Linked DNA regions of Homo sapiens. The protein of the gene in region 3 binds, or shares a complex with, the protein of the main gene of each other region. Each region holds a gene or a part of one and is shown on either strand. Other genes may lie near its edges. The genes, in order: SMARCD3, ARID1A, DPF1 and SMARCD1.

The links.
Region 1: DPF1 (region 3) and SMARCD3 share a complex: the UniProt entries of both Homo sapiens proteins name them as parts of the neuron-specific chromatin remodeling complex.
Region 2: DPF1 (region 3) and ARID1A share a complex: the UniProt entries of both Homo sapiens proteins name them as parts of the neuron-specific chromatin remodeling complex.
Region 4: DPF1 (region 3) and SMARCD1 share a complex: the UniProt entries of both Homo sapiens proteins name them as parts of the neuron-specific chromatin remodeling complex.

Annotation. Positions count from the first base shown.
Region 1 is NC_000007.14:151,245,688-151,252,797, reverse strand, and holds the start of SMARCD3 (SWI/SNF-related matrix-associated actin-dependent regulator of chromatin subfamily D member 3), read left to right. Parts: upstream 1-4,103; 5' UTR 4,104-4,235; coding exon 4,236-4,313; intron 4,314-7,110. UniProt on the Homo sapiens protein: Involved in transcriptional activation and repression of select genes by chromatin remodeling (alteration of DNA-nucleosome topology).
Region 2 is NC_000001.11:26,699,000-26,706,019, forward strand, and holds part of ARID1A (AT-rich interactive domain-containing protein 1A), read left to right. Parts: intron 1-7,020. UniProt on the Homo sapiens protein: Involved in transcriptional activation and repression of select genes by chromatin remodeling (alteration of DNA-nucleosome topology).
Region 3 is NC_000019.10:38,221,217-38,229,088, forward strand, and holds the start of DPF1 (zinc finger protein neuro-d4), read right to left. Parts: upstream 3,007-7,872; 5' UTR 2,927-3,006; coding exon 2,898-2,926; intron 2,690-2,897; exon of another isoform or gene 2,540-2,689; intron 1,493-2,539; coding exon 1,332-1,492; intron 1,249-1,331; coding exon 1,141-1,248; intron 1-1,140. UniProt on the Homo sapiens protein: May have an important role in developing neurons by participating in regulation of cell survival, possibly as a neurospecific transcription factor. Belongs to the neuron-specific chromatin remodeling complex (nBAF complex).
Region 4 is NC_000012.12:50,088,330-50,095,349, reverse strand, and holds part of SMARCD1 (SWI/SNF-related matrix-associated actin-dependent regulator of chromatin subfamily D member 1), read right to left. Parts: intron 6,830-7,020; coding exon 6,713-6,829; intron 5,511-6,712; coding exon of another isoform or gene 5,484-5,510; exon of another isoform or gene 5,467-5,483; coding exon 5,365-5,466; intron 5,110-5,364; coding exon 4,948-5,109; intron 4,858-4,947; coding exon 4,760-4,857; intron 914-4,759; coding exon 778-913; intron 1-777. UniProt on the Homo sapiens protein: Involved in transcriptional activation and repression of select genes by chromatin remodeling (alteration of DNA-nucleosome topology).

The DNA.
Region 1 (7,110 bases), on a different chromosome or scaffold from region 3:
TGGAAGCAGCATGGGGGCAGCCAGGAGGAGGAGGAGGAAGGTGCCTGATGCCCCTGGCCTGGCTTCGGAGCGTCCCCTCTGCTGACCGTCACCAGAGGCGGGGGTTGAGGTAGTCTCCCCTCCTCCCTCTCTGGAGCTGGGCGTGACCCCAAGGACTAGCCAGAGGTCCCCCGAGGCTGGTGCTTAGCCCGGGCAGGTAGGCTGGATGGCGGAAAGTGGGGCCTGGTTTAGAGATGGCCAGAACACCGAAACCAAGGCTTTGTGGTCCTCACAGCGCCAAGTGGTCTCACTTTCTCCCTCTCTCTTTCTTTCTCTCTCTCCCTCTCCTCTCGCGTTCTCTCGCTCTCTCTCTCTCTCACACACACACACACACACACTCACTCAGGCCGCCCCAGTGAGGGTGATCGTATTCTCCTAAGGAGAGCTTTATTGCTGGGGGTGTAGGGAAAAGGGAATAGAGGAAAGAGCTCTCTCCCAAGCAATCCGTTCTCCCTCCAGTCTCGCTTCCTTTGTTCCTCCCTTCCCTTCCTCCCTATCCCCTCGCCAGCTTCTCTTCTCTCCTTCCAGCCCCTTCTTCCATGTTCCCCGCTCTCCTGCTCCTCCTGCCGCGCCCCCCGAGCGGAGTCCCCGTGGTGGGACCTTCACGGAGGGCAGGAGGGCGGGACTGCGGCTGGGGCCCGGCCTAGGTGGCCATCTTCCCGCAGGGAAGGAGTTAAGTCTCTTCCCCGCATCCCTCCTCCCTCCGCCGCCTCCCCGGCCGCCGCGGAGTCCTGCAGCTGGGCCCCGGGCTGACCTTCACCGGGAGGGAGGCCGCGGCGCGCATGCCCAGGCCGGGGACCGGCGCGGGCGGAGGGAGGGGCGGCGCGGGCCGGGCCGGCCCGAGCCCCCCCAGCTCCCCGGCCGCCGCCCGCTCGCTCGGGCGCGGTGGGGGCGAGGCGGCCGAGCCCGTCCCGCAGGCCGCGGCGCATCTCTCCCTGCGCGGGGAGCGGCGCTTTGCCATTTGGTGCTGGTGGTGCTTCAGCGAGGGAAGGAGCGATGGGGGGACGGCAGGGGGGACTGCGGCGCCGGGCGCCGGGCGGCCGCCCTCGCCCCCGACAGGCGCACGGCCTGCCCCAAGTGCGGCGGGCGCCCTATTGCGCTGGGAGGAATCCACGCTCTTCCCGGGCCTCCTTCCCACCCGCAGGAGCCATCGGCGGCGTGGCACACCGAGCGCCCTTCTGGGGTTAAGCCACTGGGGATCCTGGCCTTTGTGAGGAGGGAGCCCTGGCCCGGGCCCCCACACTGGCGCCGCCCCAGCTTTCTGGTCTGAAGGCTCCTCCTGTCGCCCACCTAAAAGCAGTACGCAAATGTGTCTGGGCCTGCCTTGTGAATGGGGCCCACCACGGGATGTGGAGGTGCTCAAGGTGTGCCTGTGTGTGCAGAGCCATGTGGCTTCCTCGACCTTTTGGTGCTTGTATTGGTGTGCCTGCTGTGTGTGTGTTGGGAGGGTGTGTGTGCAAGGTGTATCTATTGTCTGTGTACACTTAAGGATGTCTCCCAGAGGGGTGGCTCAGGAGAGCGCTTATGTATGGACTTGGGTGAAGCTCACCAGCTCCTCCACAGGGGCTTCACCATAGCCCCTCGTCTAACTACCTCCCGCAACCTCTTCCACCACCAAGACCAAGCCCGGGATCTCCCAGGCCCTGCCTCAAACTTCCCAGCTACCCAAACTGGAGTGCCCAGCATCTCCTCTGCTGTCTTCTTTTCCCAAAAGGTCTCTCCAATAGTTGAGAACACTGAGCTTTAACAAAGCCTAGGGGTGTCTATCTCCAACCCCCAGAACCTCCAAGGCCTGTGGTTTCCCATGCCCCTGCTAGACGCACCCATGGTGGGTGGGGGTGCCCATGGTAACTCACACCATCAGGTAAATGGCAGAGTACCAGCTCCATGCATTGGCTCATTAAGCTTTGCAAGCATCAGGTATCTGGGGTACTGTTGAGTTCCTGTGCCCAGGCATGGAGGAAGAGTGGGAGTTAAAGATCAGTCTCTGACCTTATGGGGACCTTAGCCTCTCTGGGAAAGCAAAGCTAATGTCCTTGAAGCACAGTGCACGTCAGGCCAGTCCAATGCCAATTCATGGTGCTGGGTAGATGGCAATGAGCATTTGGAGAAGAGAAAAATCTTTGCATACAAGTAGGACGAAGGAAGGCTTCCTGGAGGAAGTGGGGCCTGGGCTGGGCTTTAAAGAATAGGTGTGATTTGGACAAGCAGAGGGAAGGCAGAGGGCAGGCAAAGGGCATTCCAGGTAAAAGAATCGGGGGCAGGGGCTAAGAAATGGGAGTGAGCGGGGATTCTGGAGGTTAGCAGGCAGACTGGGCAAGTCACTTCCCCAGGTTCCCAGCAGCATGACCTATGGCAGACAGAGGCAGGCCACCCACCCATCCCCACCGTGTCAGGGCCCAGGCTCTGTGTGTGGGGGTGTGTGGGGGGTAGTCTAGGCTAAAGCCCTGGGAGAGATTTGGTAGCAAGGGGATCTCTAGGTCCCCTTTCAAGCTAGGGGTGGTGGAGGAGCAACCTGGACCAGATGTCCTCCCTGACATTTCAGATTGACAGTGGGCACCTAAATGAACAGTGACAGCCAAGAGCACAACCAGGGCCAGCAGAAATCAGGCTGCAGGCAGAAAGGACCCCCTGGGCAAAGGCATTCTGAAGGGTTTAGGGTCAGTACCCTTCAGTCTTCAGGGCCCAACTTCAAGTAAGTGTTTCAACAAACTCCCCTAGGCACTAGGCTATGGTCCTGCCCTCACCTGGATTCTCACAGTGAGGCCCCAGCAGACCCCCAAACTTGACCCAAGGGCCTTGTTCCAAAGCCCACGGCTCCTCCCCAAGAAGGAGAAAAAAGGGGCGTGGCCTTTGGGGACCTGGGTAGGCCCAGGACTCCCTGCCTGGGTATGTCAGGATTTGCCCCTCCTCCTTCCGGTCCCTCCTCCACTCCAGGGACTGCCAACTCCTTCCACACGCCCCTTCTGGGGCTCCCTTGCCACCCCACGCCACACCCCAGCCTCAAGACCCCTCTCTTTGGGGTCTTGAGGCCGGCCCAATATACCCACTATACCCAGCCCAGCTGCCCCAACTCCTCTGGGTCCCCTAACCCCACTCCACCCCCACCCCAAGGAAACCAAGCCCAGCTTGCCTCGTTCTCTCCACGCACCCACCCGAGCACCCCCCTGGCGCTGCGCCATTCCCCACATTCATTCTCTTCCTGTTCTCATGAGCACAATCCCTGTCCCTCTTTCTGAAATACTTCCCCTATTGCCCTCACTTTCTCACAGAGCGGCAAACAAAGACTCACATACCCAGAAATAGCCTCTCACAGAGCTGAAAGGCACAGGCCATGTCCTGCCACACACGCAGGCGCGCGCGCACGGAGGCTGTCGTGGAGGGAGGCACACATACAGGGCGTCTGTCTGCACGCACATAAGCTGCCACGCCACAAAAGGGCGCGGACACACACGGCGTGTGAGACAAGGGCACACACAGCAGTGGACGCAGGGCCACGCCGCCGCCCGGGCACACCCACCGCCGCCGGCCCCGGGCAGGCGCGAGGCCTCGCGGGCCGGGCTCCCCCGGTTCCTGCCAGCGAATGTTTCCCTGCTCGGCCTGCCAGGTCTCTGGGGAAAGGGCCTCAGAAATGCAGCAGGAGCCGCTGGGGGAAAAGTTGGAACTGACTGTTCCCTGCCTGGCGCGGCCGGCGAATTCCCTGACGGAGAAACTATTTGTGGCGAGAGCCGGTGGCCGGCGACCCCCCGCCGCCTCCCCTGGCGTCCCCTCCCCGCGCCGCCTCCCGCGGGCCTCGGCGGCTTCGGGCTGCAGCACTGCTGCCCAGCGCCCGCGGCCGGGCTGGTCGGCGCGCCTCGCCGCTTATCTGCGCTGTTTGGACAGCGGGCTTGGAAAGGCAGGCGGCCCCGTCCCCGCCGAGTCAACAGGCAGACCCCGGGCCGCCGGACTATTTCTGTCTTATCAGTGCAGGAATGCGGCAGCCGCGGCGGCGGCGGCGGCGGCGGGCGGGCGGCGGCGGCGTGGGCCGTGGGCCGTCAGGGCAGCCCTGAAGGGGCCCCCTCCCCACTCCGCTCGAGTAGAAGTGTGAGAGAGCCCAGCAGGACTCAGAGGGGAGAGTTGGAGGAAAAAAAAAGGCAGAAAAGGGAAAGAAAGAGGAAGAGAGAGAGAGAGTGAGAGGAGCCGCTGAGCCCACCCCGATGGCCGCGGACGAAGTTGCCGGAGGGGCGCGCAAAGCCACGAAAAGCAAACTTTTTGAGTTTCTGGTCCATGGGGTGGTGAGTGGGGGAAAGTTAGCGGGGGAGGGCAAGCGAGCTGGCTCGGGCTGAATGGAGGGCTGATCGGGAGGGGCCGGGAGGGCGCTCCCGCTCTCCCACCCCTCTAGTGGGGGGCGTCATGGCCCACGGCCCGGCCGCGGGACTGTGCTGGCGCCCTGGCACCCGAACACGTCGCCAGGCGGCCGGCCGGGTCTGACGCGAGGCGGGGAAGGGAGGCGTTTGCATGGCTCTTGTCAGGGGCGGGGGTGGGACTTGGGGACTCTACCCCCCAAGTAGGGGGTCCTCGCTGTAGCCGACAGGTTGACTTTCGTTCTTTTCCTTGTGGGCCCAGGTGTTGCCCCTGCCCTGGGGGTGGGGGTGGGGGATGGGGACATGGCAGAGGCTGGGCTGGGCTGTCTGTTCATCCGTTGGGACAGTGTCACTGCTTGTGTCTCCGGAGCAAGGAGCAGGTGACCCTGGAGGCACTGTAGCGGGAAGCTCGCAGGCTGAGCCACCTCTGCATCCCAGCGGGAGGGCTCTGGAGCTTCTGCCTTAGGGTGGGGGAGAGGACCGCTCTAGGGACTTAGCCCAAGTTAGGGGCTCTGAGGGTCTCCTTGGCGGACTCAGCCACCAGAAGCTGATGTCCTTAACTCCTCGAACATGTGAAGGAAGGGGCTGGAGTTGGGGACATGAGGCCTAGAGACCGAAGGGACAGGGGAGCACTGTCCTGCCACAGGCAGGCTGTGAAGGCACGTGGGAGCCCGGGAGGCTGGAGCTGAGTCAGTAGGGCCCGGCTGGGAGGGGTATGGAGGGGTGGGGAATGGGAGAAGCAGGGGCTGCGACTCTTGGGATGGGTGAGGGAGTGGAGGCCCTGTGTAGAGGAAGCTGTCGGGTTTACTATGGCCAAATTTGGTTGTGACCCCAAGGAAGACACCCTCTCAGTAAGGCCAGAGTCCCTAGGATTTTGGCCTTTCATGGGGATGGGGCTGGTGGCGGGCACAGCTCTCTGGGGGCTCTGAAAGCCTCCCTCTCAGGGCCTCTTCAGCAGATGGGCCAGTATCCCTGGCCTTGATAACTGGGGAGAGCAGCTGACAGGAAGAGGGGGACTCCCTGGAGTGGCCTGTCCTCCAGCCCCAGGGACCCCTGGGGGTAACTTCCCAAGGTGTCCATGTCAGCTAGCTGAGTTACCAGTCCTAACCTGGCTGCTGGTGGGAGCCCCTTTAAAAAGGCCCATCTAGTGGGGAGAGGCTGTACACGTGGACTGTTTTTTTAATCTGGTCAACTTACAGCTTCAGTTCTTGAGTGGCTGTGAGCCCCAGTGCCCCACCTAGCTGGTGGCCAGGCCTGGGCTCCATTCTGGGCTGCTACCCTGGAGGCCTGAGTGACAGGGTCAGGTGGGGTGAGGGAAGCAGACACATGGACAGGCAGGTTTCACTGCAGGAGAGATAGGCAGAGACAGCTGCTGACCGAGGGTGGGAGGACATTAGGGTTAGACACAGAGCCTGGAGGACCAGGAGGGAGAGGTAGCAGTTGGAAGGAAAACAGCAAGCCCAAGGGGGCCCCTCCTCATGCCTGGGGGTGAGGTGGGTGGTGTGTCCATGTTAACAGTGCCAGGGTCTGCATCCCCTGCCCTCTGATCTTCTTCCTGCTTTCGTGGTCCCAGTCCCCATCCCACCCCGCTCTTTCTGTTTCACAGCCCCTGAAACTCTCTCTGGCCCTCCCCATCTCCCTTCTGGAGTCTGGACAAGTGGGGTTTGGAACACTTCGCTCGATGCATTTGCATCTCATTTACACCCCATCTGACCACCCAGGGGTAGTGGCAAGGGAGGAGGAGCCGCCTCCTCTCAGTCTCCACAGCCCCCATGAACCCTGACTGCTGACCTCACTGGGGTGGGGATGGGAAGAGGAGGAGGTGGCTGCTGACCTGGGCAGACAGGAAGGGAAATGTGAGTGCAAGTGTCACTGCCCTGACCCACCCCAGGCCCCCCTGGGCAGCCCACCTCTAACGCAGTTCCCCTCCTCCCAATCAGAGAATCCTGGCTGTGTCTGGGGCGCCCCAGCAGGCTGCCCTTGCCTGCCCTGCCTCCAGCCCTCACCCTGGGAGCAAATTATGGGGGCAGCTTGGTCAGCGAAGACCCTGGATGTGGGGACTTGGAGTCAGCCGAGGGGAGTGGGGTTTGGGACCCAAGGGTCAAAAGCAGGGACACAGGGAGCAGAGTGGCTGAGATGAGCTAGTGAGTACCAGGCAGAACCGCCCAAGAAGTGGAGCCTGAGAAGGAGGAGCAGGAGGAGGAGCAGAAGTCGGAGCAGGGAGCCGGGTACCGGACCTCAACCAAGCCGCAGAGAGCAAAGCCCTGGGCCCCCAGGAGGCAGCCCTTCAGGGGCTGCCTGGGCCAGGATGAGCTGTGTGACCTTGGCGAGGTCATTTTTCTCCTTGAGCCACAGTGGCCCCATCCGTCAAGTGGGGATGAAAGGACCTGCTCAGGCTGTCTTGCAGAGGAGCATGTGGATGTGAACATCTTTGAAAGGTTGAAAGGCGCCATTAATATTCATTTTTGCGGTACCTTCCGCAGCCCCGAGGCTCGCAATGCCCTGTGCGGTGCCTGGCTTCAGTTAGCTTCCTGCAGCCAGACGCCAAGCCCCTCCGCCAGAGCCGCGCAGATTCCGGCGCCCCTGCCCCTCCTACCCATCGCTCCCACCCATCGCTCAACGCTCAGGGTCACCAGCCGAGGGTCTGGTGGGGGAGGGGAGACGCCGGCTCACCGCGCCTGGAGCGGGGGGCCCTGGTCTGACCCACGGGCGCCCGTTTCTGCTTCAC
Region 2 (7,020 bases), on a different chromosome or scaffold from region 3:
AAGCTGGTGTCTTTCATGATCTTGAGGGACTTTCTCCTAAAGGCTTGGTTTGGTGAAATTGTTTTTTTCCTGGAATAACAAAAAGTCTAGTTTTCTGTTTTGTCATCAGTCATTTTAGAGCTTTGAAATAGAGACTGGCCAGTTTATTCCTTTGCATTTTAATGTATGTTCCACTTTTTTTCTTGTCTTCCAAGATATGAAGATACGACCTAGAATGACACTTAAGATTTGCTTAGAAATTGCAACTTCTGAGTACCTTGTTACACTATTCTATCTTGTTTTATTTTGTTGCTTTTCTTCCATCTTCATCATGCTCTGTCAGCAGTGCTTTTGGTCAGGGATATTGAGTATTCTGTGGAGTCATACATGTTTTCAAAGAGGGGGAAGCTCCATTCATCCCCTCCCAAACCCCTTGCGCTTTTGTGCTAGGAGGAAATTTTGTTCACTTACTAGCTGTATTCCCAGCCCATCCTAGAGCTACTTTACTACTCTTTTGAGCTGGGGATTTTGAAATTAGCTGTGTTAGATGGTGGGCTTGGAGCTCTGTGCCTTGATTCTACATCTTCCATGATGTTCTGCATCTGGACAAGAAATAGGGAAATGTTACATTGTTTTTCTAGTGTCTGGAGGAAAAGTTTTGTCTTAAAAGACAGCATCCTCTTGTCTCTGGGTCATCCTATAGTCTGAACCTCTTTCCTCTCATTCCCCTTGTTTTGTTTGGTTTTGGCTGAAAATTTTACTTTTCTTGAAAACTATTAGAATAAGTCATTTGGGGTAGTAAGTCAGGGTTCATTTAAAAGCAAAATTGATTGGAATTCTGCTGGTTTGGAAATATTTAGTCAAAGGTTTTAAAGAAAAAGCCAACTCTTTTGGTATAATGATTTTTGTTTTTCAGTCAGTAAATTATGGAACACTTTCTGTGTAGATGATAGGAGAATAGATACAGTCCCTGTTTGGATGCCTGTCTGTGCTGCCTTTGGATGAATTTTCTGATCTCTTTTATTATCACTAGACCCACACAACATAGATTCCTAATTAATTTCAGCTCAGTTGTCTACTCCCCAGAGACCCAGGGAATGGGCTGGTGAGCATTCAGTTGTGTAAGAGACAGTGCAGCTTCCACTTCTGTGGACTGCTTCAGGTGTGTGGTAGTAGTCTAGGTGAGGGTTGTAGGTTCAGACTTTGTTCTGAATTTCTCTTTGCTACTTGATAAACCTCTTTTCAGACCATGATGCTCTACTCTTCAACATTCTTAAATTAAAAAGTCTTGCTCTGTCTCCATCTTTTCCTGGCGCAGTCTTAGATTAAGAATATTTTGCAGAGACTTAATTAACACAGCTAAGGTGATAACGTTTTCATTTGACTCTGCGCTTATGAAATAAAGTTTAGGTAAGTGTGTGTATTGTGGCTATGTCTTTTTCACAGGACCTGGGAAGATCTTAGACAAACTTTTACTTTATTCCTTTTCATAAGTAGTGTATCTCAAGTGTTGAATCCCGGTACTGATGAAATAGTTTTAGATTACTTACACACATGAAGTTGATTTAAGGCTTTTTATTGGGACGCTTTTTAGCAATAATACTTTGAGAGTAATACCAGTTTACCAAGGTAAAAAATAAAATACAATAAATAGTCCAGGAACAAGTTGGATTTTATTGTAGAAGTTTGGTTGTTAGTTTCTACTACGGAAACATCAAATGATATTTCTGACTCCTGGGAAACAGATACAGGAATCCTAGATTTATTATGGGAATGCCTACTGGCAGAAATTCTAGGCTGGCTGAAATACAGGACTCTTGGAGCTCTCTCAAGTAGGAGGGACCAGGAAAACCACACTGAGATGGCACTTTAGTTGTGGGGGTTTCATGTTTCTCTACTGTTCATGAGAGAGCTGGGGTGATGAGGATTGAGATGGTGGTGTGAGAACAGAGAAAGCAGCCAGGACCAGGTTTGGCTTCTTGTGTATTGGGCCCTGTGAGGACTTTTTAGGTTCCTTTCTTTGTGTGTGACATGAGTAACCATGACAAGCAGCACCTGCTGAAACAGGATGTCTTGGATTGCATTAAACATTAATATGTTGGATTGACTCCTGTAGGTGTAATGTCTACAGTAGACCTTTTGCAAAGAGGTTAGTGAACTTTTTTAGAATGAGGGAATAGGCTAACAAAGTAATAGGCAGGGCTCTTTCCTGTTCCCATCCCTCAAAAGGTTGTATTGATTGGCTTCAACTCTCAAAATTCTAGAAGCAACTGAAGCTTGTAAATATGGTAAAAATGTGGTATTCAAATATATTGGCACCGAGTAGTTCTTTTCTGCCAGTGAGCTGTAATACCTGGGGCTTGAATGGAGTCCTGATTCCTGTGGCTTTTATCTCTGGGTTTTTCCTTGTTTAGATTGGTCATTATCATTACTGACGCACACTTACGTTGTTATTACTGATGCATACTTGAGTTGTGTGTTGCGTTAGTGGTAAAGAGCACAGGACTCACAACAGGAGGAGGAAGGAGGAGGCTTAGGTTCCACATACAGCTCCAGATTAAGCTGTGTGACCCTGGGCAGGTCATTTGCTTTCTCTATTTTTCATTTTCTCCCTCATCAATAAAATGAAGTTGGTCTGCATGGCCTTCTCACTCTAAGATGCTACATATCTGTGCTTCCATAGCTGGCTTGTTATGAAGGCAGCTTTCTGTACATAAATCAGGGGTCTTGAGACCATCTTTCTTCCCCTGGACTGAAGGAACTCAAAGCTATTTTCTCCTGGGATTCACAGGAACAAGCTCTGAACAGTTGGGTGCCATTGTGGTCTGTAGACTTTTACAGAAAAAGCTCTACCAGACTGTTGCCTTGAAACTGTTAATCTGTTTGTCATTAGTCATTCCACCTGGCTGGTGGTTTTAAAACACTAAATAGTCGTTGGAAAGTTAGGTAGATTTCATTAAAGCAAGACTTGAAAAATAGTTGCTTCAGGATCCCCAGGAGGCTTTTGCACTTGGGGTTGGGGTGAGGAATGGATATTCATAAGTTCAGTGTTGATATTCTGCTGCTTTTGGGGAGGGGTAGGGAGAGAGAGGGAGCATTAAGCTCTCCAGACTCCTGGTGTTTGGGCAGGTCTAGGTCTGGTTTGGGCAGTTGGTTGTAATCTGAGTGCCTGGACTTGCCCTGTAAGTTTTGCTGAGAGAGAAGCAAATGTTCCTGAGACTGGAAGAGGAAAAGCTGCGTTTCAGGGTCAATTTCATAGGTGCATTTGTTGTTTCTCATCGCTATGGTTTAAAAAACTACATGGTGTGCTTTGCACGTGGTCCTGGAAATGCTATTCTTTCTCTTCTCCAGCACACCTGAATTTCCATTCTTTCTCTTCCTGGCTTAGTAGTTTAGAAGTGTAATTTAGGTATATTAGAGGAAGGAAGCTTCCCTTTATAAAGGAGGGAAAAGGGTAGAGGGAACAGTGTTTGATAATTCTGTGCTTGACACAGCATCTTCTATCGTCTCTGAAGGAACCAAATGTTTCAGAGCTTTGTGTAAATACTTGCTGAGCTGTCAATATGTACCCAGGAGGTTTCTGTAGTAAGATGTAAACTGTTCTATAGAATGTTTGACAGGCAAATTAATAAACAGTTTTCAAGCAAAGATAATGCTAGCCTCCTCATGTGGTGGAGTAAAATAACATTGGGGAAAAAGACTTGGGGATAGGAAAAGGGTAGTGCTGGGGGGCAGTGAGTGTGGAGATAAGAAGTGATCTAAAAAAAAATTGAAATGGAAAGATGCTGCCCTGGTAGTGAAACCTCTGTGGCCCTGGCTGCGTGCTAAGTTCAGGGCATGTGGTATCCTGTTAAAGTCAATTGCAGTTTCATAGTGAAAATAGAAGTTTGGAAAGAAGATCCTGACTGTCAATAGTAAGGTAAGTATTACCCCAGACACTTGGCTTATGAGACTTTGAGGTTTAAAGGGTAGCTTGGTGAGATTATTTTTGGCTTGGGTTTGCATTTCTGGAATATTAGAAAGGAGAAAAAAGATACTGCAACTTGAGTGTGATCTTTATCCTCAATTTTGCTGTTGTGCTGGGGATTATAAGTCCACTACCCAATGGCCTGGGTTTATTTATACAGTTTTTACTGGACTTCTGTGTATCACTTATGATAAAATTAATATGCCTTTACACTCTGTTCCTGGGTCAGTACAAAGTCCAAATATTTGGGGACTCACTACATCTTACTTGAAGGATTATGTGAGTAGATACAGTCTTTGTTTTTGAAATTGCCATTTTAGGATTAAAAACATATCTGGGTTCCTTCAGTGACACATTCTTTTTATGGAAGAAGAAGAAGAATCTATGAATATTTTAGCTGTCTGTCTGTGGTCCTCTTCTTTGGTAGCCTTGTGAGATGACCAGATTTGCCTTCTCAGAATGTCTTTTTTAACTAGATTCATTGATTCTGACACCAGTTTTCTTTATAAGAAGTGTTTTTTACACCAGAGTCCTGGAAGTGCCCTTTTGACTTAGCTGTTTATATAGTAGCAGGGAATATGAATGTAATTATGGTCCTGACTATGATTTTTAGGTTCAGCTAACTTACTACCAAAGGCTATCAGCTTGTTTTAATACAAAACACAAAAACTTGGATTGGCACTGACATAGGTTGCTTAATATTGCATGGTCCTTTCCCAGTATGTTGGTAGTGAGGGTATTAGGAACTTCAGACTTATTGCTGAGAGCATAGTTTCTAAGTCAGAGAGATCAGGAAATTCCAATGGGGATGGGAAATAGCCCTATGTGATTACACCAGCTAGGTACTAGGAAGAGATTTAAAAGGTAGAAACAATATCTCCTTCAGAGGCATTTAGTTTTCTTAGGAAAGCATGCTTATGTGCACACATCTGGAAAACTTGAAAAGCAAGGTTTCATAAATGGATGTAGACCACACTAATTATGTGAGCTGAAGGAATTAGAGGAAAAGGTTCAATCAGTTTGGCAGGGTTAACCTGGGACAGCTTTTCAGAGGCTTTTTTTGTGAAGCTAAATGTTCAAGAAACTTAGAATACTAATTTGCCTTTTCATAATGCTATTCTTAAGTTCCATGGGCTTGATAGAATCCACATTGCACATCCATCTCCAGACCAGTAGCTGTCTCAGTGTTCCAATGACTTTGAGAATTTGGACTCTAACCATAAAACTCCCTGAAAGAGTGGTTCCAGGGTCTTAGTGGTTCTTGTGGTCAGGTAGAGCCTTTGGTACAGACTGTTAAGTTCTTGGCTAGTTCAGGGGCACTTTTCTAGTAAATTTGGATTTGGAAGGTCATGTCACCTTCAGAGTTGTGTGCCCTGGACAGCTCTGTAGTAATGGTGGTTCAACTTTGTTGGTGAGTCTGTCTTGGCAGAGTTAGTTGACCTTTCTTAAAACAAGAGCCACGAAGTAAGTATCTGTTGGGACTCTTAGGCTGCTATTTCTGAGGAGCTGGGAGCTGTGTTCAAGTCAAGTTGCTTGTGTTAGACCTTATATTGAGGTTGATGGGTTAGGTAAGCCTGCACATATGCAGTCTGCCCATTTATTCATAGAAATGGCCTTTAATACTGTTTTTGGCCGGGCGCGGTAGCTCACACCTATAATCCCAGCACTTTGGGAGGCCAAGGTGGGAGGATTGCCCAAGCCCAGGACCAGCCTTGGGACCAGGCTATTAACATAGGGAGACCCCATCTTTACAAGACACAAAAATTGCTGGATGTGGTGGTACGTGCCTGTAGTCGCAGTTTACTTAGAAAGCTGAGGCAGGAGGATTGCTTGAGCCCAGGAGGTTGAGGCTGTTGTAAGCCATGATTACGCCAGTGCACTCCAGCCTGGGCAATGGAGCCAAGACCTTGTCTCAAAAAAAAAAAAAAAATTTGTTTTTTATTAGGTTACTATGGCCAAGCAGCTAACAAATGCTGCTCACCAATGCTTAATCCTTGTGGAGCCTCTGGAATATAGTGATTTTGGTTTCTTTACCTGCTGGTCGATCTGTGGTTGGGCCTTGGCACTTCACCGGTCAAGGATCATCAGTGGATGCTTAACAGCTGAAGATGCATGGCATGTCCAGTGCCAGGCCACTGTAATGCTTCTACCTGGAGAAGGATTGGTTACACTGCTCCAGTACAGAAGTACTGCAGACCTTTTTTTTTTTTTGAGATGGAGTCTTACTTTGTCACCCAGACTGGAGTACAGTGGTGCAATCTGGCTCATTGCAACCTCTGCCTCCCAGGTTCAAGCGATTCTCATGCCTCAGCCTCCTGAGTAGCTGGGATTATAGGCTTCCACCACCATGCCCGGCTAATTTTTGTATTTTTAGTAGAGGTGGGGTTTCATCATGTTGGCCAGGCTGGTCTTGAACTCCCAACCTCGGGTGTGATCCACCCACCTTGGCCTTCCAAAGTGCTGGAATTACAGGTGTGAGCCACCACGCCCAGCCTTTTTTTTTTTTCCCCCCCCCTCAAGTAATGGTCCATGACCTGCTGAAAGTACTGGAGTCTTGGATAAACATTCTGGTTTAGAAATACCTTTTCCACTTTTTTTGCCTTGCCATTTTGGCATTTTGCAAAAGTGGGTTTTCAGTTACTCAGAATTGGGCACCATAGTTAACCTCCTATGGATTACAGGTGTTTAGGGGCTTGAACTCTGATCATTCCCAGGTTTTAGAGGAATCCAAGTTCGGGTGAATATTGACTTAGTAGCCTTGAGTATTCTTCCTGAAATTACCCCTCCTCTCCATTTAAATGGATGAAATTAGTTTTTTACTGAATGTGAAGGGACATCTGAATGAACTTCTGTTTGTTTTTGTTAGTCACTTGTGCATAGCTGGAATATTATCTTGGGACAGGTTGAGTCTATTTCCCAGTGGCTTCTGCATTTTCTAAGGGTGGACTGGAATGGGAAGAAGTCTAATGCCAAGAATGCATTCCAACATGCTGCAGAGTAGGAAATTTGATCCCTAAAATGTTGACTTAGTGTTGGTCATGGTACATATTAGAAATCACCCAGTAATCCAGGAC
Region 3 (7,872 bases):
GACACCCTCAGGCACCCACAGAAAAAAATACAGGCAGATGGCCGGGCATGGTGACTCAAGCCTGTAATCCCAGCACTCTGGGAGGCCAAGGCAGGTGGATCACCTGAGGTCAGGAGTTCGAGACCAGCCTGGCCAACATGGTGAAACCCTGTCTCTACTAAAAATACAAAAAAATTAGCCGGGCATGTCAGTGTGCATCTGTAATCCCAGCTACTCAGGAGGCTGAGACAGGAGAATCGCTTGAACCCACTAGGCGGAGGTTGCAGTGAGCTGAGATTGCGCCACTGTACTCCAGCCTGGGTGACAGAGCCAGACTCCATCTCAAAAAAAAAAAAAATACAGGCAGACTGATCCATCCCAGTTCCCAGGGGAAGGGACACAGTCAGCAACTCCATACACCCACACACACCTAACAGATATCACTATGCCCTCCAATACCACTGGGACCCTTGGTGGGGCATGGTGGTTCACGCCTATAATCCCTGCACTTTGGAGGGCTGAGACAGGAGGATCCCTTGAGCTCAGGAGTTCAAGACCAGACTGGGCAACATAGTAACACCCTGCCTCTATTTAAAAAACAACAGGCCAGGCGCGGTGGCTCACACCTGTAATCCCAGCACTTTGGGAGGCCGAGGTGGCCAGATCACCTGAGGTCAGGAGTTCCAGACCAGCCTGACCAACATGGTGAAACCCCGTTTCTACTAAAAATACAAAATCAGCCGGGCATGGTGGCGCATGCCTGTAATCCCAGCTACTCGGAAGGCTGAGGCAGAATCGCTTGAACCTGCTAGGCGGAAGTTGCGGGTTCAAGGTTCAACTCCCCGCTAGGTGGAGGTTGGGGGATCACGCCATTGCACGCCAGCCTGGGTGAAACTCTGTCTCAAAAATAAATAAATAAATAAATAAATAAATAAATAACAACAACTGGGCACCTGGGCCCATGTAGGAGGAGATGCAGTCGCCACTCAGTGACTCAGAGAAACTGTGGAATCTCTGGGAAACACCCGGGACGCACATGGGCAGACAGACACACAGCCAGCCAGGCAGACACTTGCTAGAAGGCGATAAAGGTGATGGACGAGTGCTAGGACACACAGCAGGCGCTGGGACACCGATGGGGGCCCCAGCGGCTGCACCCACCGATCTTGTACTCGCAGGGCCTGAGTCTGGGGTCCTCCAGGATGTTGAGTCTCCGTTTCTTCCTCCAACAGCGGGCGGGGTACGTGTAAATCTGTCCCGGGGCCAAACCTGGAGAGAGAGGGGGGTGAGAGGGCGGCGGCGGTGGGGCGGCCTGGCCCCGCCCCGCCCTGCGCCAGCCCTCCCGGCGGTACCCGGCCCGCGGTGGGTCTTCTCCATCCAGATGTAGCAGTTGTTCTGGGCCACGCCGGTCTGCGAGTCGAGGAAGGGCAGTCGCAGGCTGCGCTCGGCGCACAGGCGCGCGTTGTAACTGCGGCAGTGCTCGATGGCCTCGCGGTAGAAGTCCTCGCCTAGGCTAGAGGGGCGGCGAACGGGCGGGCGGCTGTCAGCAAGGGCAGGCGCACAGGGTCGCCCAGCACCCCTTCCCCGGCTGCCGGGCCGCCCAGGCTCGGGAGGGGTGGGCCGACCCCTCCAGCCTCACCTCTCCCCTCCTCCCACTCCGGGACCCAGGCTGGGGGAAGGGGACAGGGCCCAGGGGCCCCCAAACTGGGACTCAAACAGGCCCCCAGCTCATGAGTAGAAACACGATACAGAAACAAACAAAAACACACCGGGACGTATCCCTACCTGAACACATGCAGACACACAACACAAATCACACACAGTCACACGGGATTCACACACAAAGAGAGACAAATCCCAATACTCACAAAGGAGAAACAGACAAACCTCACACACGTGCACACATAAATATCTACTGAAAAAGACAAATATCCCAAGTTCCATAGTGTGGAGACAAATCACACAAATAACCATGCACAAAGACACATCACATATCCACAGACACACACCAGAAACACATCACCCACACAAAGACACACAACATGGAAACATCACACCACACACACATACACCCCCTCATGCATCCAAAGACACAAGCATGTCAAAAGACAGGAACTACAGAAACCACTTGCGCCCCTAGGCACTTACCCATGTATCCAAAGACACAACACAAACCACACACACAATATCCAGACACACAACACAAAGAAATCACACAGATTCACACAGGTACACACACACATTTACAAAGATGCACGATGCGCAACCAGTATCTAAAATATCACACATCCACACAGACACACACACATATAAAACACAGAAACAGCCAAATCCACCCATAGTCACACAAAAATTTACACACAAATACACGCAGCCCTACATACCCAAAAACACAGAACACAAGACAAATGACATATAGTTCCAAAGGACACGGACACACACTGGGAGACCCAAATATCCAAAGATATCTAGTGCAGAATAAAAGGAAACAGACACATGTCCACACACCTATCCCCCAAAAATTCTTAAAAAAACCAGAACACAAATAAGTGATACACACACACACTCCACATCCCAAGACAAAGGTAGTGTGGACTTCACTCCAGTTGCCAAGGCCCCCGCACCCCCGGGTCATTTCAGTCTCTCCCAGACCCGAGGGTTGCAGGGAAGGGATGATGTCTCCCTTCCCCAAAAAGAATCTGGAGGCCCCCCACGCCCTCCACCCCGCCAGGGAGCGGTGCATCCGACACCATTCTTGTCAGAGACCCACAGTCACACACTCTCGCACCCCCGCGCAGCCCCGCACTCGGTGACAGCCCCCCAGACACCCCTTCGGCCCCACCCCCGGTCGCCACACACACACAGGCCCGCGTAGACCCGCCCGCGCTTCCTCTCCGCCTCCCGCCGGCCCGCACCACCTCAGGGGGCCAGGGATGACAGTGGCCATCTTGCTCCCCGGGTCCTGCCCCCAGCAGGTCCCCGCCGGGTCGGTCCTCCCAGCGGTCGGGCGGGCGCTGAGGCCGCCCATCCATTCATTCCCGGGGGGCGGGAGCACGAGGGCCACGGCCAATCGCGGCGACGGGGCGGGCCCGCCCGGGCCATGCTGGGAGTGGTAGTCCCAGGCCAGGGGGCCCCCGGGACCCCGCGGGGACGGGACGGCGCGGAGGAGGGGCCCGGGGCACGCACCGTCACTCACCCGCCCTCACTCGTCCACATATCCTGCTCTCGCGTGCACACAACCACATGCACACCTGGACTCGCACACGCCCACGCATGGCAGTTTACACACACATTCACGCGGATACTCACAGCCTCCCACACACTCCTACTCACACACCTTCGCACGGACTCACACAGCCACACGCACACACACTGCAATACTAAGAGACGCAGAGACACCTCCCAGGTGCCCACACAGACTTCTCACCAACATGCTTCCAGCAGACACCCCCTCACCGCCCCCCACCCAAGTCCCTCCTGGCTCCAGAGACCCCACCCGGGGCTGTCTCTCCCAGCAGCCACGCTCACGGTCACCCCGCCCTGCTCAACGCCTTCTGCAGGCCTGACAGCAGCAGTGCAGGTTAGAAACAGTAGTCACACCTCCAGGGTTCAAATCCTAGCTCTGCCACTTGGTGGCCATGTGACCTTGGCAAATGACTTAACCTTTCTGGGCCTCAGTTTCCTCATCTGTAAAAAGAGGATGATGCCTCACTGGAGTGTTGTGAGGATTAAATGAGTAAATATAGGTAAAGCATTTTAAGAGGTGACTGGCAGGCCAGGCGCAGTGGCTCACACCTGTAATCCCGGCACTTTGGGAGGCCCAGGCAGGTGGATCACCTGAGGATGGGAGTTCGAGACCAGCCTGGCCAACATGGTAGTAGTCTCTACTAAAAATACAAAATTAGCCGGGCATGGTGGCGCATGCTTATACTCCCCCACTCAGGAGGCTGAGGCAGGAGAATCACTTGAACTCAGGAGGTGGAGGTTGCAGTGAGCTGAGATCGTGCCATTGCACTCCAGCCTGGGCAACAAGAGTGAGACTCCCTCTCAAAAATAAATAAATAAATAATAAGAAAGAAAGAATAATGCGGCCAGGTGCGATGGCTCCAGTCTGCAATCCCAGTACTTCGGGAGGCCTAGATGAGAGCACTGCTTGAGCCCAGGAGTTTGAGACCAACCTGGGCAACATATCCAGACCCCTGTGTCTACAAAAAAAAATTAAAATTAGCTGGGCATGATGGCGCAGCAGTGTAGTCCCAGCTACTTGCAAGGCTAAAGTGGGAGGATAGCTTGAACCTGGGAGGCTGAGGCTGCAGTGAGCTGTGGTCTCACCACTGCACTCCAGCCTGGGTGGCAGAGCGAGACTCTGTCTCTAAAAGCAAACAAACAAACAAACAAACAAACAAAAAACTAAGTAAGCAGGGCGCCGTGACTCATGCCTGTAATCCCAGCAATCTGGGAGGCTGAGATGAGAGGACCGCTTGAGCTCAGGAGAACAGCCTGGGCAACATAGCGAGACCTGGTCTCTACTAAAAAAAAAATAAATAGCTGGGCATGGTGGCACATGCCTATGGTCCCAGCTACTCAGGAGGCTGAGTCAGGAGGATTGGTTGAACCCAGGAGATCGAAGCTGCAGTGAGCTATGATCACACCACTACACTCCAGCCTGGACAACTGAGCAAGACCCTGTCTCCAAAAAAAAAAAAAAAAATAGATGCTCAGTAGATATTTGTTGAATGAGTAAATGCACCCATCATGTGCTGGGCACAGTTCACCCCGGGATGCTTTTATTATCTGCATTTTCCAGGTGAGGAATCTGAGGCACAGGAAGGTAACCTCACATGCCCGCATGCCCTGGCGGCTCTTTGAAGGTAAGACTGAAGGAAGGAGGCAGGCACCCCTGACGGCCCTCCCCAAGTAGTCCTGACCTCCTTCTCTCTCCCACTGTCACCCACACTGACTCCACCCGAAGAGATCCCCAGGGAGTGAGCAGACCCACTGAGTCACAAACTGACCCAGTCTCTCTGCAACACCACCACCCCGTCCCCCCTCCCGTCTCACCCCTCCTCCCCCTTTCCCCTTCCCACCCCTTCTCCCCCTTTCCCCTTCCCCTCTTCCACCCGGACCCCTGTAGAGCCAGCATTCAAATTTGGGCGGCTGCTGTAATTAACACGCCCACAAACGCCCTCATCCACCAGGGGGCGCCCCAGCCGACAGAAGTGGCCCGCTAGCCTTCACCATTTTTGTCACTTGAAATCCCCCCAAGAGAGAGATCCAGTCAAGGCCTCCTACACTCACGGTCACTTCTACACACACACACACACACACACACACACACACACACTCCTCTAGTCTTAGACCCTTTCCACAAACTCGCCCATCTAAGCCAGGTAAGGTCTTGGCCGGCCCCTCTCCTGGAACAGGAGGTAGGTCTCTGATTCACATATGGCCTGGAGTGGTGACAAGGGGATTAAGTGAGGGGCACTGACACCCCTACGATCACTCTGGCCTCCAGGGCCCTATAGTGGCCACCTCACACCTTACCCACGGTGAGCTGTGACCCCACCTTCCTCTCTCACCTCCCATTAGCTCACAGGTCCCGTAACACACCCTCTTACACTTGATTCCCACACCGCTAGCCTCAGACACGCAGACTCACTCCTGCCCCACCCCAAACTCTCATGTCGATTTGATTAAGAGAAGCCCGAGTGTAGACACTGAGTGCAGACCTTCCTAACAGTCCTCCTCTACCAGCAGAATTTCTATTTTTCTTTCTTTTCTTTTCTTCTTTTATTTCTCTTCCTTCCTTCCTTCCTTCCTTCCTTCCTTCCTTCCTTCCTTTCTTTCTTTCTTTCTTTTCTTCTCTTTCTTTCCTCTTTCTCTTTTTCTCTTTTTTTTTTTTGGACAGCGTCTCACTCGATGGCCCAGGCTGGAGTGCCATGGCATGAACACAGCTCGCTGCAGCCTCCACCTCCCAGGCTCAAGCGATCCTCCCACCTCAAACCCCCAAGTAGCTGGGACTACAGGCCTGTGCCACCGCACCCGGCTAATTTTTGTATTTTTGTAAAAACAGGGTGTCCCTGTGTTGGCCAGGCTAGTCTCAAACTCCTAAGCTCAAGTGATCTGCCCACCCTGCCCTCCCAAAGTGCTGAGATTACAGGCATAAGCCACCATGCCCGGCCCACCAGCAGGATATCTACCCACAGACGCAGGCTGACACTTGCAGCGGGCTCTCCTTTCTTTCCTTCTGCCCTAACCACCTGCACACACCACTCCCACATACTCTCCTACACACTTGAACTCCCAGTCCTCTCCCTGGCCCAAACAATCCTCCTGCCCCATCCCCCAATGCCCTGTGTGGGAGCTGGCCCACAGTAGAAATCAATTTCATAAATCAATATTGATACTACTAATAATAATCACTACATTTGGTCAGTGTCAGTCTCTGTGCTAACTGCTTTACAAAGATGGCCTTAGCCCCACGACAGTCCCATCGGGTGGTAAGGGCTGTTAGAAGCCCCCATACACAGATGGCAAAACTGAGGCTCACGGCAGGGAACATTCGTGGCTCAAGCTGGTTTTGGAACTCAGGCAGTCGGAACTTCCGAGGGCGGCACCCTGCAGCTCCTTCTCCCCAGGGGATTTGACTCACATTCTTTCAGGAGCCAGGGAGTCCCCACCTTCACCCCCACAGAGACCTTTTGGAAGGGAAGGGCACAGAGGGGTAGGGCCCTCCCAGTCCAGGCTTACTGTAGCTGGGCCCCTGCTCACGGCTGTAGCACACCTCCTCCCAGGGGTCTGGGCCAGGGTCAGGGTGAGGGGCCCCATCGCCTGTAGATCCACCAACCTGCACAAGAGCCCCGTTCCCAGCCATTTTGCGGATGTCCCCTCACAGGAGAGACAGCTGTCTGTGTGTGCCACTTAGGGTGAGAGGGCAGCAGAGGGGTGTCACCATCATACACCACCTCACACGGACCCGAGCCCCACACACCCGCTCCCGGCACCCTGCTCACGGCGAAGCCACACGTGTAGGCGCTTGCCTCTAAGTCCCTGCCCCCCTTCCTCTCCCAACTCCCACCCTCCACCTCCCACCCCCATTCCCGCCAGAAACCAGAAGCAACTGGCGGCCTCTGGTCCAGCCAGCAGGCGCATCCCTTCTCGTGGGTGGGGTAGGGGGGCGCTCCCTCTCTCCCTCTCTCCCCCCACCCCCCACCCCCGCCCCCAGCCCTCGATGTTCAAGGTCAAGGCAGCCAGCGCACGGGGTTGGGGGAAGGGTGGGGGAGGTCGCCCCGGCCCCTTTGTGCGACGCCGCGGGCGCTCGCCCTCCGCCTCCTCCACCAGGCCCGGGAGGAGGGGGAGGGGAGCGCCTCGCTCGCCTGCGGGGAGGGAGGGCGGGAGCGGCCGAGTGCCTGTCACTTGGAGCCCGCTGTCACCGCCTGGGAACGGGGGGTGGGGAGCGCTGGGACGTGGAGTCCGGGATCCCGAAGAGGAAGCAAGAGCGAGATGGAGAGGGGGAAGGGGAGGTGTGGAGAGCGCGAGGGATGGCAAGGAGAGGAGAGGGTCAGGAGGGGCCAGGCTCGGACCCAGGCTTCCGGATTCCCAGCCACCGGGCCCGGGAAGAGGCGAACGCTCGGAGGACCGCGGCCAGGGAGAAAGGGAGGGAATCCCCGGAGACCGAGGGCGCTCCCGGCACCCCCTCCTGGGCAGCCGGTCCCCAAAGGGATCAGAGATGCTCCCGTTTGATGTGTATGCGCGGGGAGAGGGAGGGATGCCGCGGTCCAGACTGACGGCGGGTTCGGGGCTTCCAGTTCCCGGGATCCCGGGAGGAAAAAGGGGAGGCAGCGGGGATGGAACTGGGGACCCCCGACGTCTCAGCTCCCACCCTGCGGCCGC
Region 4 (7,020 bases), on a different chromosome or scaffold from region 3:
ATCTCAAAAAAAAAAAAGAAAAGATTTAGTTGGGGCATCAACTCTTCCAGCAAAGCCTCCCTTTCTCCTTCATGTTCCCAAAGCACTTTTGGCTTTATTTGCAAGGACTGCGTCTAGTAATAACAACCCAGATAACAATAATAGTAGCAGAAGTTACCATTTGTTGTTTTTATGTGCCAGATACAGTCTCAAGTCTTTACACACACTCCCTCATTTAATCGTCATAGCAACCTGATTAAAATAGGTACTATGGGCTGGGCGTGGTGGCTCACGCCTGTAATCCCAGTACTTTGGGAGGCTGAGGCGGGCAGATCACTTGAGGTCAGGAGTTGGAGACCAGCCTGGCCAACATGGTGAAACCTCGTCTCTACTAAAAATACAAAAATCAGCCGGGTGTGATGGTGGGTGACTGTAATCCCAGCTACTTGGGAGGCTGAGGCAGGAGAATCGCTTGAACCCAGGAAGTGGAGGTTGCCGTGAGGCGGGATTGCACCACTGCACTCCAGCCTGGGCGAGAGAGCGAGACTCCTGAAAAGAAAAAAGGAAAAAAAAGGTACTATGGTCTCTATTCCACAAATCAGAAACCGAGGCTCAGTGCTGTTGAGAGTATCCCCACAATCAGAATTCATTTGAGTCTGGCTCAAACCAGCACCAAGCACAGTACCTGACATATACTGGGTGTCACCGTATTTTGAATGAACACTAAGAATCAAAAGGAGGCCTTGAAGCTGTGATAGGGGCTGGTGGTACCCAACTATCCAGGGCACAGACCCCTACCTTGTTGTCTAGAGTAGCAATCTCCTGTTGGCTGGCAGTGGACAGCAGAAAAGAATTCATCTGGGTCTTCAAGGTGTCATCCACTTCAACATCAATGTCATAACAAGCTGTCTTTTTCTGATCATTCGGGTCAACACTGGACAGGAAACCAAAGGAGCCTGGTAAAGAGCTTGTCCCCTAAGACCTAATTACACAGGGTCAAAAAGATGACCCAGGATGAAGAGAAAAGGGGCTAACTGTAAAAGGGCCCGAGAACTTTCGGGTGTGACAGAAATGTTCTACACTTTATTGTGGCAGCTACATGGTGTACAGATCTGGCAAAAATCTTCAAACTACACTTTCAATTGGTATAATTTGTTATATATAAATTATACTTCAATAAAGTTGATTTATTTAAAAAGTCAATGGTAAAAATTCAAGCAGTACAAAAGGTATCCTGTGAAAAGTAGTTCCTTTCTCTCCAGAGGAAATCACTGCTACAGTCTCCTATATATCTTTCTCCCTTTAAAAAAAATATTTGGCAGCCAGGCGTGGTGGCTTATGCCTGTAATCCCAGCACTTTGGGAGGCCAAGGTGGGCGATCACCTGAGGTCAGGAACATGGTGAAACCCCATTTCTACTAAAAACTAGCCGGACGTGGTAGCTCACGCCTGTAATCCCAGCTACTGGGGAAGCTGAGGCAGGAGAATCTCTTGAACCCGGGAGGCAGAGGATATAGTGAGCCAAGTTCATGCCACTATACTTCAGCCTGGGTGACAGAGTGAGACGATCTCTAAAAATAAAAAAAATTCGGCGAGCCATGGTGGCTCATGCCTGTAATCCTAACACTTTGGGAGGCTCAGGTAAGAGGACTGCTTGAGCCCACGAGTTTGAGACCAGCCTACACCACACAGACCCCAGTTTCTACAAAAAATTTCAAAACAATTCCTGGGCGTGGTGGCACACATCTGTGGTCCCAGCTGCTCAGGAGGCGAGGTGGGAGGATCACTTGAGCCCAGGAGGTCGAGGATGCAGTGAGCCATGATTACACCACTGCACTCCAGCCTGGGCAACAGAGAGAGACTCTGTCTCAAAAAAGAAATAATAATAATAATTTTTAAAACTTTTTTGGCCAGGTGCGGTGGCTCACACCTGTAATCCCAGCATTCTGGGAAGCCAACACGGGCAGATCACTCAAGGCCAGGAATTCAACGCTAGTGTGGCCAACATGGCGAAACCTCAATACAAAAAGTGGTGCACGCCTGTAATTACAACTACTTGGGAGGCTGAGGCACGAGAATTGCTTGAACCTGGGAGGCAGCGGTTGCAGAGAGCGAAGATCATGCCACTGCACTCCAGCCTGGATGACAGAGCAAGACTCTGTATGTTTAAACAAACGAAGCCTTTCTTTTTTTTTTTAGATGGAGTCTTGCTCTGTTGTCTATGCTGGAGTGCAGTGGCGCAGTCTTGGCTCACTGCAACCTCTGCCTCCCCGGTTCAAGTGATTCTCCTGCCTCAGCCTCCCAAGTAGCTGGGACTACAGGCGCCCACCACCATGCCCAGCTAATTTTTGTATTTTTAGTAGAGATGGGGTTTCACCATATTAGCCAGACTGGTCTTGAACTCCTGACCTTGTGATCCACCCACCTTGGCCTCCCAAAGTGCTGGGATTACAGACGTGAGCCACTGCGCCCAGCCAAACAAATCTTTTTTTATTGTTTCAGAGACAGGATTTTACTCTGTTGCCCAGGCTGGACTCGAACTCCAGGACTCAAGTGATCTACCCACCTCAGCCTCTGGAGTAGCTGGGTCTACAGGAATGTGCCACCGTGCCTGGCTTTCTCCCTTTTAAACTAAAATTGACCCCAAAAATAAAGTCAAACACAAAATTAAAAGTGGTCTAACTTTAAGCATAGGAATATAGGACAGACCAACTTCTACTGACCTAATTTATAGGTTGAGGAGTTACTACTGTGTAAGTGAAGGTTCAGGGTCTTATCTTTTTTCTTTTTTTCCCCTCCCTCTCTGTCATCTTGTAGGTTCAGGGTCAAAAGAAAAAAAAAAAAAAAGCCCACCGGGTGTGGTGGCTCACACCTGTAATCCCAGCACTTTGGGAGGCCGAGGCGGGTGGATCACGTGACCAAGAGATCGAGACCATCCTGGCCAACATGGTAAAACCCCGTCTCTACTAAAATACAAAAAATTAGCTGGGCGTGGTGGCATGCGCCTGTAATCCCAACTACTTGGGAGGCTGAGGCAGGAGAATCGCTTGAACCCAGGAGGCAGAGGTTGCAGTGAGCCGAGATTGTGCAACAGAGTGAGATTCTGTCTGTCTCAAAAAAAAAAAAAAAAAAAAAAGAAAGAAAGAAAAGAAAAGAAAAGAAAGCCCTTACCAGAATTAATATGGAATAAAGGAAGGAAGACAAAGAGACTATATCCAACTACAGAGACACGCTGCTTTGAGAAGGAAATTTTCTTCACCCCCTATCTAGAGATGCCTTGCTCTCCAGCTTCTAAACAAAAAAGTGAACAGAGGTAATGGAATTGGGAGGCTCGGACTAGAATGCTGTACCATCCAGAGAAAAGATGGCTGCTGAGCCCTTCCATGAGTGAAGAGCTGGTAGATGTTTAACAACTGATCTTCCAAAGGAGAGTGGGAGGAAGTGCCCAGATGTGTGGCATTTGCTGATCTTTGGGCTTTAAATATTCTGATTTCAGCCGGGCGCAGTGGCTCACACCTGTAATCCCAGCACTTTGGGAGGCCAGGTGGGCGGATCACCTGAGGTCAGGAGTTTGAGATCAGCCTGGCAAACATGGTGAAGCCCCGTCTCTACTAAAAATATAAAAAAATTAGCTGGGCATGGTAGCAGGTGCCTGTAATCCCAGCGACGTGGGAGGCTGGGGAGGGAGAATTGCTTGAACTCAGGTGGCGGAGGTTTCAGTGAGCTGAGATCATGCCATTGCACACCAGCCTGGGCAACAAGAGCAAAACTACATCTCAAAACAAAACAAAACAAAAGGCCGGGCGCGGTGGCTCACGCCTGTAGTCCCAGCACTTTGGGAAGCCAAGGCGGGTGGATCACCTGAGGTCGGGAGTTCAAGACCAGCCTGACCAACATGGAGAAACCTTGTCTCTACTAAAAATACAAAATTAGCCAGGCATGGTGGCACATGCCTGTAATCCCAGCTATGTGGGAGGCTACGGCAGGAGAATCACTTGAACCCAGTAGGCAGAGGTTACGGTGAGCCAACATTGTGCCATTGCACTCCAGCCTGCATAACAAGAGTGAAACTCCATCCCAAAAAAAAAAAAAAAAATTCTGATTTCAAGCTACCAACATTACATTACTGTTCATGGGAAGAGATGCACAGTAACACATAAGCACATCATTATATCATATTTCCGCCAGATGGATACAACAGGCAAAAATAACCTCAAGAGCACAAATACAGGCTGGGCGCGGTGGCTCATGCCTGTAATCCGAGCACTTTGGGAGGCCGAGGCGGGCAGATCACGAGGCTCGGCGGGCAGATCACGAGGTCAGATTGAGACCATCCTGGCTAACATGGTGAAACCCCATCTCTACTAAAAATACAAAAAATTAGCCAGGTGTGGTGACGGGTGCCTGTAGTCCCGGCTACTCGGGAGGCTGAGGCAGGAGAATGGCGTGAACCCAGGAGGCGGAGCTTGCAGTGAGCCGAGATCGCGCCACTGGACTCCAGCCTGGGCAACAGAGTGAGACTCTGTCTCCAAAAAAAAAAAAAAAAAAAAGCACAAATACAATAAAATGTAATAATTAGGAAGTTATACATTTTGAATATATGTTACCCACTTTTAGTCTAATATATTTAATTATAAGTTTATGTAATTTAATTGTAAGTAACAGTGTAACAGTTGTGTTTAACAACCTGTTTGCAAAATTCCTGAAAATTTGACAACTGGCTTGTGCAAATCGGCACAAGGCAGCTCCGGCACAGCACTGCCTCCCACACACAGGCCTACCTGATGACATGATTAATGATGATAGGTTCTGGTGGCATAAGCAAGGCATGGAGCCGCTGAGGGATCTCTGAAAACTTCATACGTTGAGACTCAAAGATCTGTAGCAAAGGGGAGAAGCACGAGGTTAGCAGTTTGAGCATAACTAGTGTTCTAATGGATTCTAGCAAAAGAATGGGTCCATTACTTACCTGCTGCAGGTACTTGTCACAGATGACAAACTCCCGCTCGTGAGGGTCCTGGAGCTTATGTGTCTTAATATATTGCCACAGTGCTTGGATGATCACTGGACGAGTCTGGGTATGGATGCCCAGGAGTCGAGCTAGGCGGGGGTCTAATTTAAACTGGGGAGGCTGCAGGGAACCAAAGTATAGGGGATGAAGCTAGTTAGCTGCGTCTATATGCAGCAATACATTCAAGCTATTCAACAAATAATGTAGTGCTTTTTCTGGGACAGAAAAATTCTAGGAAGAACTCAGAGATGACTAAGACTCTATCTCTGTGCCAAAGTGGCAAATTATTCACAACTAGACATAAACTCTTTAAAGTGAGACTGCTGACGGTATGTGGCTGTGAAAGCTGGACCCCCTCACACCACCACAGAATACCTGGTAATCCAGCATCAGTAGGACAGTACACCGTACATTCACGTCTCCCGGCCGCTTCACCTGAAAGCCATCGGTCTCCTGGGTAGTGGCGGTCCTGTGCCACTACAGAGAGGAAGATGTCAGGGGGTGCTCTCCCAGAGGAAGAGCTGGGGTGGGAGGGAAGAGCTTCTGTAATGACTGAATATTCAACTTTGATTACTGAGGCTACTGGAGAAGAGTAATAGCATGAGGCATTTTAAAAAACTGCATATGGCTTTGGGATTACTGTCTGTGTATAAGTAGATTAACCTTTTAATTGTTTGTGGTTGATTTAAATAAGCCTCAATGTCCAGTGATAATTTTATCCACAAAATGGATAATACACATGTGAACAGTAACATAGCTATCATTTACTGAGTACTTACTATGTGTGACAGTATTCTAAGACATTTACCTGGATTATCTCACTTCCCGAACATCTATACAAGATAGGCACAATTATACTTATTTTACAGATGAGAAAACTAATGCTCAGCATAATAAAGTAACTTGCCTAGGTCAAACAGCCAGTAAGTGGCGGAGCCACCATTTGAGCTCTGATGTGTCTGATTCTACAGTCCACATTCTTAGCCACTATACTCTACTGCTATAAAATTAAATATATTTACAAGTTTCTATTGATTCTATGACTTACTTCCCTTATTAGATGGTAAAGACCTCCCCATGTCTCTTAGTGGTTGAGGTTAAGGGGCTGCAGCTACACTGGCAAAGAAAGGAGCAGGTTAGGTTCACTTGGAGTGCTGGCTGGACTGTCATTCTGGTTTTGCCTGTTTCCCAAAGAATACTGTTGCTAACATGGGCTTCAAAACGTTGTGCAATCAGGCATCATAATAAAGGATTTTTGGTGAATTGGAATGTAAATGTAAACAGAGCAGAGACCAAGAGGAAGTCCCAGATCTATAATGGTAACCTTGGCAAGTACTAGTACCCTATCAGTCAATCACTCTAATTACAGCAACTGCTGCCAGGAAAAATGGATAACTACATCTCACCATTATTAACAAGCAAGATACAGAGATGGCCTGGCACATACAAGAGGCCACCAGTAGACTTTCCCTTGAAAGAGGTGGCAGTGACCAGGATAGTAACATTAAAAAGATGGGACAAGTTAGGTTACAAGAGCCCTTGGTCCTAACTAAACATGCTAGTGCCACCTAGAGGTCAATGTGCAAACTGTACACCTGGAGCGGTACTGTGTACACCTAGAGTGACTACTTTATACCTCCCCATCTCCTTAGACATTAAAATACGGCTCCCAAGTCCATCATCCTCCAATCAGAGTCAAAGCCTAGAAGGCAGAGCTACTCACTTCTACCAGATGGTTGTCTGGCCCATACAGGTCTTTGTCCAGTTCAATCACCAAGGACTTAAAAAAGGAAGAGAACTTCCTCTTTTGTTTAGTGGCATCATATTTGGACAAGGCTGACTAGAGGAGAGAAAATAAAAATCACATTAGGAAAGGCCAGAAGAAACTTCCCAAGACAAAATCCTATGAAAAAGGAACCCCAACAACAATGGAAAAAAACTCAAAAAATATCTTCTGAATATCTCTTAAGAGAGATAGGCAAAGTAGGCATCTGCAGGTATTAAACCAATCATAGTAGCAACAGAACCCTG